2 linked regions of the Homo sapiens genome follow. The protein of the gene in region 1 interacts with the protein of each later gene in a pairwise test. Each region holds a gene or a part of one and is shown on either strand. Other genes may lie near its edges.

Region 1 (7,038 bases):
CTGTCTATATACTGTCTTGTTCTCTGCTCTATCCCTAGTACCTAGTACAATGAATGCCTGGCACATGATAAGTATTCAATAAATAATTATTGACTGAATATATATTGAAACCCTCTATAATTAATACATAGTAAGTGCTCAATAAATATAGTTAAAATACAGTTGTTATTATTGTCCAAAAGCAAATAGTTAATCAGAGGCAGAACCAGGATTTATAATTGAAGTCTGAGTCTAAAGCGCATGCTTCTTTTATGATATGACTTTGTCTGCAGAAATAGGTTCTTGGCCCAGCACTGCCCTAACTGGTTGTATGACACTTAGGGTGAGACACTATACTACTCTGAATCTTAGTTTTCCCATCGGTAAAATGGTTACAGGAGCAGGCAAAGTTCAGGTTTATCTTCACGTAACCTAGAAAAGGAGGAGAATAGAAGTCTAGATAGATGGGGATATAAGCAAATAAGTAATTAACCAATACAAATCAGTATCTTCCCTCTGCAAGACAGTTGATGAGCTATAACAAGAACCCTTGATGTTTTTATGCCCTTCAGCCTGGTAACCCTGTTCAAAGGCAATATAGAGTAGTGGATGGTATGGATGGTATGTAGGCTTTGGTGTTAGAGAGCCCTGGTTCAAATCCCAACATCCAATTTACTAGCTCTGTGGTACTGGGCAAGTTACCACCCTGAACCTCACTCAATTCCCTTCTCTACAAATGGGATAACACCCACCTTTTAACCCATTTCTAAGGTTACAAAAAAAAAAAAAATACAATAACATGAAAAGATGTTTTCTTAGTATAGAAAGAGAAACTTCTCCCACCATCCTACCCACCTAACAGTTCTTTCTGTAGTTCTGTGCCATTGAAGGCTACCTCTTGAGGCAAGAGGCACAGGCAATGTCAAGAAAAGAGAGACTGAAGACAAGCAGGCTGATGGCAGAAGCCAGAGTCCAGTGTGTGGAGTTGGATCACCCATAGGATAGACTGGGGCAGAGGGGAAGATCAGCTACTGAGGGAGAAGAAAGGAGACTACAAATCTGAGTAAGGGGATAATGGCTAGGCAGATCCTGAGAAGCATGGTAGGGAGCCAGTGGGAAGACAACAACATGCCTTAGAGGGTACCCCTTTCAAAACTTTGTAGCCCTTTCCCAGAGGCAGGCTTCAAATTATGTTATTAAAGGCCCTTGAAACTGTGTTTCTTCCAAATCTTTTTCTTATTTAGTCACATCCATGTATGTTTTGAAATTGTAATCTTAGTGTGTACACTTTTTCAGCGAGTATCTTATCTTCAACATTTTCTATGTCACAAGTCTTCAGTGGCTGTCAAATATCCTAATTTTGCTGAAAGCCCAGAAAGTACACCTCTGTGTATTAACTTTTTGCTTCCTTGAATTACCTCCTTAAAATATATTCCCAAGTATAGGATTCCTGAGCCACACGGTATACAATTGGGATTTAATGACCAAAACCAGGTTTTTCTTTTTCTAAGAAAGAAATTACCCATAATATCCTTTCCCCTTCCTTTTCTGGAACTGATAAACACACCCTCTAGAGTTGTGCTGTCTAATATGACAGCCAGTAGCCACACGTGGCTGTTTAAATTTTAAGTTTGATTAAATAAAATTCAAAACTCAGTTCCTCAGTAGCACTGGCCACATCACAAGTGCTCAGTAGCCATATGTGCATAGTGGCTATTATACTGGACAGCACAGATACAAAACATTTCCATCACTGTAGTAAGTTTATTGGACAGTGCTTACTTAGAGTTTCTCAAGAGATCATTTTTGGTTTCTTGGGTGGGAGTTCTTTGTGTTCAGGACTTTCCTGGGCATTGAGAGGCTATTTAGCATCTCTGGCCCATGTCCACTAAATGCCAGTAACACATTTCCTTGAGTCAATCTAACAGCCAAAACACTCCATATTTGCAAATGCCCCATAAGGGAACAAAATTAACCCCATTCGAGACCCACTGAGCTTTTAGAGGGAAACATCTCCTAACTTTTTCTTGAGACAAGGTCTTGCTCTGTCACCTAGGTTGGAGTGCAGTAGTGCAATCATAGCTTAAGCAATCCTCCTGCCTTATCCTCCTGAGTAGTTGAGACTACTGGCATGTACCACCATGTGTGGCTAATTCTTTCTTTCTTTCTTTCTTTTTCTTTTTCTTTTTCTTTTTTTTTTCTTTTTTCTTTTTCTTTTTTTTTTTTGTAGATATAAGGTCTCACTATGTTGCCCATGCTGGTTTCAAACTCCTGGGCTCAAGTGATCCTCCTGCCTCTGTCTTCCAAATTGCTGAGATTACTGGCATGAGCCATTGCACCTGGCCTTCTTTTTTGAGATGGCCTCAGGTTGGCTCTGCCTGGAGAGGGGGAAGCTTGTAAAGATGGCTTAGAAAAAAAGTCCTGGCTCCATTTCTATTTTCTCCCTTCTTTTGCTGGCCTGTTTCCTGCTTTTTGCAAATTGCAGGAACAAGACCCTGCAGATGGAGAAGATCAAGGCTCGTTTGAAGGCTGAGTTTGAGGCACTTGAGTCAGAGGAAAGGCACCTGAAGGAATACAAGCAGGAGATGGACCTTCTGCTACAGGAGAAGATGGCCCATGTGGAGGAACTCCGACTGATCCACGCTGACATCAATGTGGTACGTGGCTGCCTGGAGCCTATCTCTAAAGCCTTTGAGAAAGAGGTAGTGGTGAATGATAGGGCCTTTCCTTGAGATGTGGCTTAGGCCTAGCTCGGGGAGCAGGCATCAGTGCAGGCTGTGGTAGAGCAGAAGAATTCAGGAGTTCTGAGATCCAGCCCTGGCTCTGTCACTAACTGACTATATATCACTGGACAAGTCCCTTCTCTCTGGGCCTCATTTTCCCTCTCTGCACTATAAGGGGGACTCAGTACCCTCTAAATGTACTGATTTGATGTGCTCTCATTCTGGGATTCTGGGAGTTGAGAGCTAGCCTTGGGGAAAAGCAGAGCAGGCAGCTGCCTCTGGAATGTAGTTTAAAGCACTCCAAGCTTTCAGTCAGACCAAACAAATCATTTCTGCCTGCTACCAAAGTGGAGCTTCCTCATTGATATATCCTTTGGAAACTCTTGGAACACAGAATATGAACTGTCTGCTAAGGTGGTAAGCTCCCCTCTTTGGAATTATTCAAGCAGCATCTTAATGGACACTTGTATGAGCTACTGTACTGATGATTCCTTCACAAGGAAGGAGGTTGGCAGTGCTGACCAGTAAGGTCTTTTCAAACCCTTATCACCCATAACCATGAAGAATATATTTTTAAAATTTACTTTCAAAGGAACTAAGTTTATATTTCTGGAAAACTCATTTCTGTGGCAATACTCATTTTCTGATGTTGTCAGACCTAGGATCATAAAGGAAATATGAATGAGGTTTGGACAGTAAGCAATTGGGATTTTCTGTGTTAGAGATCGCAGAATTCTAGATCTCATAAAGTGTTGACAGTTTGGCTGCCAGCTAACCAATGATACAGGGCCAGTTAAATGAGGAAGATATTTGCCAGAAGGGCTAAGAATATAAGCCAGTGGATCTCAAACTTGAGCATGCATCAAAGCCACTTTGAGAGCCTAAGACACATATTGCTAGACTCCACCCCTGATTTTCTGATTTTGTATGTCTGAGGTGAACCTAAGAATATGCATTTCTGAGTTCCCAGGTGATGCTGATGCTGCTGATCCCTTGGCCACATTTTGAGAATCACTGATCTAGGAGAAAAGACTGCTGGCCTGGGAGGCGGAAGCCCTAAGTCTTTATGCAGGATTTGATACTAAGAAGTATTTCCCCAGGAAAGTCCCTTTTTCTCTTTGAGCCTCAGTTTTCTATAAAATGGGAGTAAGGTGGACTAAATGAGCTCTGAAGGACATTCCAGCTCTAAGATACTATATTTGAACAATACCATTTATTTAGCAGTAAATATTAATTTAGCCCATTTACTGAGTGCTTTATATGAATCCTATCATTACATCTTCACCAAGATTGCATGAGTTAAGCACTAGAATATCACCATTATACCGATGAAGAAACTGAGACTTGACCAGAGTTACATGGAGAGGGCATGGGAGATCAAGGACTTGAATATAGACTGAACAAGTTCTGGAGCTTGTGCTATTATTCACTCAGCTATAGATCCTCTCTGAGAACCTTAGGATCTTTTCTCTGTGCCTATCCCACTCTATGTTCCAGATGGAAAACACTATCAAACAATCTGAGAATGACCTAAACAAGCTGCTAGAGTCTACAAGGAGGCTGCATGATGAGTATAAGCCACTGAAAGAACATGTGGATGCCCTGCGCATGACTCTGGGCCTGCAGAGGCTCCCTGACTTGTGTGAAGAAGAGGAGAAGCTTTCCTTGGAGTAAGCTACCTGCCCCCAGTCCCTACAACATACCCTCCCTCCGACCCACATACATACTTACATACCTACACACACACGGGCAGGTATACATACACAAAGCCTAGCCTGAAAGTCAGAGTGCCTAGTTTTAGTCCCAGGCCTTTCAGTGGCTTACTCACTGTGTGATCTTGGGCAAGTCTCTGTGCCAGCTTGTTAAAACAGAAGGAGGATTATTAAACTGGATGAATTACTAGATGAATTAGAACAACTACTAGGTGGCTTTTTAAATTCTTTGTGTGATATTGACAATACAAGACTATGTCTATAACTCTTAAGAGATCATTTCCCAAGTCAGGGTCTAGAAGGCGATATCTAGAAACCTCTAAAAACAAAAAAGACTGAGCTTTCCTGGTCTTCAGGAAGTGGCCTGGGACTTACTTCATCTCCTGGCTCAGAGTTAAGAACTAGGCTTGCCTTGCAGAGAGACAGAATTTGACCTGGTAGAGGAAATCATTTCCTAAAGGTAGAGCAAGGTGTCTGTGGAGTTTGTGAGCTTCCTACTCTTAGAGATATGTCACCAGAGGCCTTAGGACACTTAATAGGAATACTCAAAAGAGCATGAGATAGCAGATAGGACTGAATACCCTTTAAGGATCTTGCTAGCCCTAAGATTTCTTGGTCTTCTTGGCCTATCAGAGCTAAGGACAAAGAGGATTACCCTTCTCATCAGACATTGGGCCTAGTACCCAGGGACAATAGCCTTGTGCTTGGGAAGGTGTGGGGACCTTCTAGAATGAGCCACAGCTCAACCCTTGGTTGTATGGCATGGAGTCTTTAAGAGGAGCAAGGTTCTCATTGCTTTCAGAATGATCTAGCCAGTGTCTCTCATCTCCAAAGTTACTTTGAGAAGCAGAAAGCAGAATGGCAGACAGAACCTCAGGAGCCCCCCATCCCTGAGTCCCTGGCCGCTGCAGCCGCTGCCGCCCAACAGCTCCAAGTGGCTAGGAAGCAGGATACTCGGCAGACGGCCACCTTCAGGCAGCAGCCCCCACCTATGAAGGTAAGTGAGCTGGGTAATGGTTGTGGAGGAAGCAAAGTATCCTCCCATGGAAGGGCCGTGGAAGGCTAGTTCTGGGTCTTTGGCTTTATTTATGCTGGGCCTTCTTTTAATGGCCTTTGCTTGTGACACAGTGGAAGGGGTGACATGGGTGTGCTGTGTTGGACACACACAGCACAGGTTTTGTTGCCCCATGTTCCCAGAGGTGTTAGAATGCAGGGAGATTTTCAGGCCCTGCTAGAGTGCAATTCTAAAAGTTAGAAATGACTCTTACACAAAGATGTAATGAGCATGTATCATAAATGAGGGAACCAGCAGGATTATAAAGCTGGTTCCAGGAGCATTTGGAACAAATATCTATATAGTCAAGAAAGGAGAGGAAGGCTGAAACAAATTTGCAAAGTTAGATGCAAAACTGGTTTACATCCCACAGGACAATAAAACTGTAACTTTATAGTTACTTTTTCTTCCAAACAGAAGTAATTTGCATCTCTACTGGGCAAAAGCCATTTGCAGCTTATCAGTGTAACATCACAGAGCCTGGGTCCTAATCAATTGGTAAATAGTCAAACAAAGAGACATTCTTCTAGAGCAGGGGTCATCAAATTACAGCCTACAGGTCAAATCTAATCTGTTCCCTGTTTTCGTTAAAGTTTTATTGGCCCACATGCATGTCTGTGTTTGCAAGCTATTGCAAACAACATGCATGCAAGCTATTGTCTATCACTTCTTTCATGCAAAACAGAATTGAGTAGTTGCAGCAAGTTTATATGATGTAAAAAGTCTAAAGTATTTGCTGTCCTGGCCTTTACAGAAAATGTTTGTTGACCCCTGTTCTAGAAAATTAAATAGTCCTTAAGTGGGCCTGTTAGACAATGCTTCATTATAATGACGAAAAGATGTGTAGTTCTCATTTTGCCTTACTTTCTAGTTTTGTATACTTTTTCTCAACACCATTCTCTGAACTGGGTTATGTCCTTCCTTCCCATCTTCCATGGCATCCAAGAATACTTGAGTCTACTCACTGATTATTGCTCTCTTCTGATGGGAAATCACTTTGCTTTCTGGGCCCCTGGGGAATCAGAAGTCTAAGTTGTTGCCTGGAAGAATCTGACTACTAACTTTCTTTTTCCTGTGTCCCTCACCAGGCCTGCTTGTCATGTCACCAGCAAATTCACCGGAATGCACCTATATGCCCTCTTTGCAAGGCCAAGAGTCGGTCCCGGAACCCCAAAAAGCCGAAACGGAAGCAGGATGAATAAAGAAAGGGAGAGCACATGAAGCTTTGCTAATTATAACCCCTCACCTTGACCAGAGTCATTGATGTCCTGATGTGAAACAACCCTTGCCCAACCCCACGAAGTCTCCTATTTAATGTGATGGAAGCACAACCCCTCTCTCACTTTGCTCCTATTTCTTTCTGCTCTTGGGATTTCTGGTTTAGGAAGAGATGTGGTTCAGGTGCTAAACAGTGTGTCTGATGATCCCTTCTCTCCCACTCACATTTCAACCCCTGCCCTTGTTTGGAGCTAAGGGAAGGGCAAAAGGCTCAGATATGATTCTCTATCTCTTGTGCCTGAGGCCTGGAGCCTAAGGAGCTGTAGGGTCTGAGGGGCAGGGGAGGCCCATA
Region 2 (6,502 bases), on another chromosome or scaffold:
GTTTATCTGTTTGTTTATGACTGCATCTTCAGTGCCTAGAATAGTCCTAGTACATGGAGGGATCTGTAAATATTTGGTATCCTGATGAATGAATTAATGGATGGGGGGACTTCACTGTCTGTAGGAATCATGGAGCTAGCTAATAAGTAATACATGAACCAGAGTGTATGAAATATATTAGTCCCTTGGAAGCCATAGGGGTTTGATTTCAGGACCCCACATGGATACCGAAAGCCAGAGATGTTCAAGTTCCTGATATATGTGAAGTCTTTGCCTATAACCTATGTACATCCTCCCATATACTTTAAATCATGTCTAGACCAGTTATAATACCAAATGCAATGCCTACCTGTCACTTCATTCACAAGGATTCAACATAGGACTCAGTGTGTGAGAAATTCCAGTTTTGCTCTTTGGAACTGGAATTTTTTTCCCTAAATATTTTTTATGTCCTGTTGGTTGAATCCATGGATGCCAAACCCATGGATATGGAGGGCTGATTATATATTGCAGAACAGATTTTTTTTTTCTCTGTGGATGGCTGCTTATCCATTTTCAACTTTCTTAGGTTTCCTTGACATGATTGGTTTTATGTGTGTGCAGTTGACCCATGTCCTGTGGAAACTTCTAAGCATAGCATTTTTTTTTTCATGACCACACTGAGTAATATGCCTTCCCTGGGACCTACCCTGGAGCTTTCCATAGGGAGCATATTTATATCTGAGAAGAAAGTCTTTTTGAATGAGGATTTGCAGCTAGCTTTCCTTTGAGAGATTTACCCATCTGCAGCCCATTTGCCTTTTCCAAAGTCGGCCCACACTTCACTGCCTCCAGTTCCTCCTTCCTTCCCTTAGAGGGGGAAGAATGAGGATGAGAGGACACAAGTTATGTAGCTGAATGTTGACTCTGTTTCTGGTCATCTTTCTTCAAAAATGTGCGTATTTCCCTTTTCTTTACATTATGCAAATTTAATTGTCAAAAAGTTAAAGGACAGGCTTTTTGTTTATTTTTATAGATTTAGTGCTATATTTTGAACTAGTAAGCTTTATGACCTGGAAGGAATTGGGGAATTACTTACTCAAAATAGAAACATCCTGAGACCCCTTCCCATCTCCTTAAAGACCTCTTATTTATAAGTCACAGTGTATTAAATATATCCATGTACCTATTAGACAGGATTGTTCCCTTGACCATCTTTGCGGGCAGGAACTTCAGGGTTTGTTTCACTCAGCCCACCGCTGTCGATTCCTTGCAGGAGGGAGTGTGCAAGCGAGCAAGTGCAGGAACCGGAGCAAATGAATGCTGGAATTGGCTGGTCGCTCCTCTCTGGCGAGAGCAGGCTCTGTTATGCACGCCCCACAGCAGTGTCCAAGCATGTTACAACCCATGCTGTTTCAGCTCTGCCATCTGGGGATGGCCAAGTGCCAATCAGCTCAGTGGAGCATCAGGGTAGCAGCCCCTGCCCTCTTGGCACCTGGGTTCTTGTCCAGCATCCAGGAAGAACCAGGTCACATGAACTGTGTGAAAGGTGATGAACGCAGAAGACTTTATTGAGTGGTGAGTGGTTCTCAGCAGAAAAGGAGGCTGGAAAGGGGCTGGGAAGGGGATCAACATGTTCCTGAAGCCAGGCCATTTGTGGCTGGGCCCCTCTCCAAAGCAGCACCTTCTGAAGTTAGCCACATCTATCCATACTTTCCGACACTCAGTTGCTTCTCTGCTCACCGCTCAGCGACTTGTATCCTTGCCACTCAGCTGCTTGTGTTGCTCTGCCAGCTGAAATCTTTTATGGTCACAGGATAGTGGCAGGCAGGCCAAAAAAAGCAACATTGGGGCAGAAAAATGGGGTCATCTGTTTTCACTTAGGGCTGAGGTTCTAGGCTTAAGGGTGGAGTTTGGCTAGGTATACTGATGGGTACCCACTTACCTATTAATATTTTCCAAGTTTCAACCTTTGGAACTTAACTCTCCATCAGAAAAATTTACCTAATTCAGGACTTGGTAATATCCTGACAAAGTTTTGAACATTTTGTGAGCATGAACCATAATAAGAAACACCTCTTTCAGTATAACCTGGACAGTTTTCATGCATGTAGGTGTATGTGAGTGACTTTAGCTGACATTTCATGTAACGACACCTTTCCTGCTTGTCTCCACACTGTGATAATTTTCATTCTGGCTCCTTTCTATAAATGTCTATTGAAGGTTTTAACTTTATTTCAGCTCACTGATGTGTAGTCTTGAATATAAAAACAGTTAAAAAGGCCTGTTTATCTACATCATAGGCTTTCTTTTCATTCCAAGTGATTCTTCACATCATTGATTGTCTGATGAAGAGCATCCTCCTTTGTGGACCTCTGGAAGGACAGCCTTTCAGATTCCCCTCAGAACTGCAGTTGTCTGTCTCTGTACTCTTTCAGATAACCAACTTATCATCCATATCAAAACAGAAAAATAAGATTAAGTATTTTATATGTGTCATGCAAAATTCTTGTATAGGAATACTTTCGATTTGTAGATATAAACATTCTAAGGTGTTTGATGTTTAGTATCATGAAGGGTTAAACTAAAAAGTTTAATGGGACATTTTACAGAGAACTGCTCTCACTTCACTCCAAGTGCAAATTCGGCAGTTTTTCAAAACTACCTTCACATTCAATAATTTCCTAGAAAGACCCTCAGAACTCACTGGATGTATTTATTCTCACAGTTACTGATTTTTACAAGCAAAAGATGCATATTATAGTTAACCAAGGGGGAAAAACCAAATAAGACAGAGTCCAGTGAAGTACCAAATGTGGATCTCCTATTGTATTCTCACAGTAGAGTCGGGCATGTTACATACCCAAAATTAGCATGTGACTTAGACACAAGGAACCACCAATCAGGGAAACTCAACTGAGTGCTGGGATCCAAGTAATTATTGGGGCTCCATTACATAGCCATAATTGGTTGGTTGATTCCTGTGTGGTTATTTAGTCTTTTGGTCCACTGGTTCCCTGTGACCTAAAGACCTACATTAAATCACATCGTTATTTTTTCTGACATGGGGAATGCCACCTGCCATTTCCCATCCCCCAAAGCTGTGGCTAGTCACAACCCTAAATTATATTATTTCACTGTCAAGAGTTACCCAAGATTTGCCCCCAAGCAAACAGAGAGACTCTCCTCAGGCATGCCCCTTCAAGATTCTACAGATTACCTCTCAGATACTGAGGACAAAGTCCTGACCTCTTTTTAGTTAGGTTAACTCCTTTTCTTATTTTTAAAAATGTTTTTTAAGCCATCTTAAACTGAAAGGAAGGTTAACTTCTTTATAAGGATATATAATATACAGGCAAATATACGAAGTATTTATTATGTTACTGCTTTCCCTTAGAGTTCCTTTTGATTCATATTTCATTACGTACATAATAGTTTAGTAATTTATCATGTAAAATTTCAGACTGAGTTGGAAATTTTAAAAACAGTAACAGGTTAAATGTATGTGTCATATTAATTTTTTATTAAACCTTTTATTTCTATCAATGATTTTTTATTTGAAATGTGGTATGTTTTTTTCTTTCTTTTCTTTTTTTTTTTTTTTTTTGAGGCAGAGTCTCACTGTGTCGCCCAGGCTGGAGTGCAGTGGCACGATCTCGGCTTGCTGCAACCTGCGCCTCCTGGGTTCAAGCAATTCTCCTGCCTCAGCCTCCCAAGTATCTGGGATTATAGGTGTGTGCCACCACACCTAGCTGATTTTTGTATTTTTAATAGAGACGGGGTTTCACTATGTTGGTCAGGCTGGTCCCGAATTCCTGACCTCAAGTGATCTGCCTGCCTCAGCTTCCCAAAGTGCCTTGGTCTCCCAAAGTGCTGGGATTATGGGTGTGAGCCACCGTCCCCAGTGACATGGTATGGTTTTAGATTACTCTCATGCAAACCAGAAACCAGGGTGCACTTGGAAAACACAAACTGAACATTCGTTGAAGTTTCATACCATGTCCTAAGTGTGAACTCTTAAAAACACTGAACAGGGCATAGCTTGTCCTGATCTCTTAATTTTGTATTCTGATAGGAGGCAAGATCCAACCTGAGATGAAGACTTTTCCAGAAGCAGGACCACATGAAGGGTGGTCCTGCCAGCAGATCTGGGAAGAAATTGCAAGTGATTTAACCAGGCCTCAAGACTCTACCATAAAGAGCTCTCAGTTCTTTGAACAGGGTGATGCCCACTCCCAGGTTGAGGAAGGACTATCTATAATGCACACAGGACAGAAACCTTCCAATTGTGGGAAGTGTAAACAATCCTTCAGTGATATGTCCATCTTTGATCTTCCTCAGCAAATACGCTCAGCAGAGAAGTCTCATTCCTGTGATGAGTGTGGAAAAAGCTTCTGTTACATCTCAGCGCTTCATATTCATCAGAGAGTCCACCTGGGAGAGAAACTCTTTAAGTGTGACGTGTGTGGTAAGGAATTCAGTCAGAGTTTACATCTGCAAACTCATCAGAGAGTCCATACTGGAGAGAAACCTTTCAAATGTGAACAATGTGGGAGAGGCTTCAGATGTAGATCAGCACTTACAGTTCATTGCAAATTACACATGGGAGAGAAACATTATAATTGTGAGGCATGTGGGAGGGCCTTCATTCATGATTTCCAGCTTCAGAAACATCAGAGAATTCACACAGGGGAGAAGCCATTCAAATGTGAGATATGTAGTGTGAGCTTCCGTCTTAGGTCAAGTCTTAATAGGCATTGTGTGGTCCACACAGGAAAGAAACCAAACAGCACTGGGGAATATGGAAAAGGCTTCATTCGTAGGCTGGATTTGTGTAAGCATCAGACGATCCACACAGGAGAGAAACCATATAATTGTAAAGAATGTGGGAAGAGCTTCAGACGGTCCTCCTATCTTTTGATCCATCAGCGAGTCCACACTGGAGAAAAGCCATACAAATGTGACAAGTGTGGGAAGAGCTACATTACTAAGTCAGGTCTTGACTTGCACCATAGAGCCCACACAGGAGAGAGACCTTATAACTGTGATGACTGTGGGAAGAGCTTTAGACAGGCCTCAAGTATTTTGAATCATAAGAGACTCCATTGCCGAAAAAAACCATTCAAATGTGAGGATTGTGGAAAGAAGCTTGTATACCGGTCATACCGTAAAGACCAACAAAAAAACCACAGTGGAGAAAATCCATCCAAATGTGAAGACTGTGGGAAGCGCTACAAGAGGCGCTTGAATCTTGATATAATTTTATCATTATTTTTAAATGACACGTAAGTGTTGTACATATTTATGGGGTACAGTGTGATATTTAAATATATGTATATGATGTATAATGATCAAATCAGTGTAATTAGCACATTTATCACCTCAATTATCTCTTTTTTGTGTTGAGAAAATTAAAAATTCATTGTTCCAGCAGTTTGAAAATAAATTGTTGTCGATGATAGTCACCTTTAGTGCTGCAGAACAGCAGAACTTCTTCCTCTTATCTACCTGTACTTTTGCATCCATTAGCCAACCTTTGGCCATCCCACCTATCCCTTACCCTTCCCTGCCTCTAGAGCCACTGTTCTCACTACTTCTAAGAAATCAGCTTTTTAAGCTTCCCCATGTGATTGAGGACAGTTTGAAGTTAGTGTTTCAGCCATAGCTCAGCATACCCCAGTGGTCGTGGGACTGTCAGAGCAGAGAATGCTGCAGGGTTTCTAACAGAAGTTTGACAATTAGTTATTATTCAGGAGACAGGTCTTAGTATAAGAGTTTGTTCACACACTTTCAAAACACTAATGATGAACATGTCAAAATTGATGACCACTAGAATGTCAGCCACATGTGTCTTTGTATTTTTGCTGCATCCTTACATTGCTTGAGTCTGGAAGATTGAGGCTGCACTGACCTATGGTAGTGCTACTGCACTCCAGCCAGGGCAACAGAGTGAGACCCTGTCTCCAAAAAAAAAAATTAAATAAATACCTTTCTTTGTTTCTAGACAAGCATCTCTCTGTGTTTCTGGAATTTTTTTTTTGAGTGTACATACATAGTGTGTTACAATTATATTCTTATTTTCTTCAGCAGTGAATATTTGCTGGTATTTTTCTATTTTATAATTGTATGCATTATTTTTAGATTTCTCAGTGAACATCAGAAACCCCATCTCTACAAGAAATACAATAATTAGCCAGTTGTGTTGGTGTATGTCTGTAGTCCCAGCTGGAGACTACTGGAGAGGCTGAAGTGGGAGGATCGCTTCAACCCAGGAGGCAGATATATATACAAATGGAATAGAAGTGAGAGTCCATAAAGAAACCCATACATCTAAGGCCACTTGATTTTCAAGAAGGATCCAAGATTACTTTATGGAGACAGAATAGTCTCTTCGACCAATACTGCTGGGACACCTATACACAGACACACAACATAATGAAGTTAGATTGTACCTCACCCTACACTTAAAAGTTAACTCAAAATTCATCAGTGACCTAATGTAACAGCTAAACTATAAAAGTAT

What was found. The genes of interacting proteins can lie anywhere in the genome.
Region 2: the proteins of ZC4H2 (region 1) and ZNF223 interact in binary tests that used the Homo sapiens proteins (3 or more experiments, as listed by UniProt).

The regions. Positions count from the first base shown.
Region 1 is NC_000023.11:64,917,415-64,924,452, reverse strand, and holds part of ZC4H2 (zinc finger C4H2 domain-containing protein), read left to right. Parts: intron 1-2,209; exon of another isoform or gene 2,210-2,464; coding exon 2,465-2,636; intron 2,637-4,199; coding exon 4,200-4,372; intron 4,373-5,248; coding exon 5,249-5,411; intron 5,412-6,556; coding exon 6,557-6,670; coding exon of another isoform or gene 6,671-6,689; 3' UTR 6,690-7,038. UniProt on the Homo sapiens protein: Plays a role in interneurons differentiation. Involved in neuronal development and in neuromuscular junction formation.
Region 2 is NC_000019.10:44,062,010-44,068,511, forward strand, and holds the end of ZNF223 (zinc finger protein 223), read left to right. Parts: intron 1-1,308; exon of another isoform or gene 1,309-1,557; intron 1,558-4,054; coding exon 4,055-5,268; 3' UTR 5,269-5,990; downstream 5,991-6,502. UniProt on the Homo sapiens protein: May be involved in transcriptional regulation.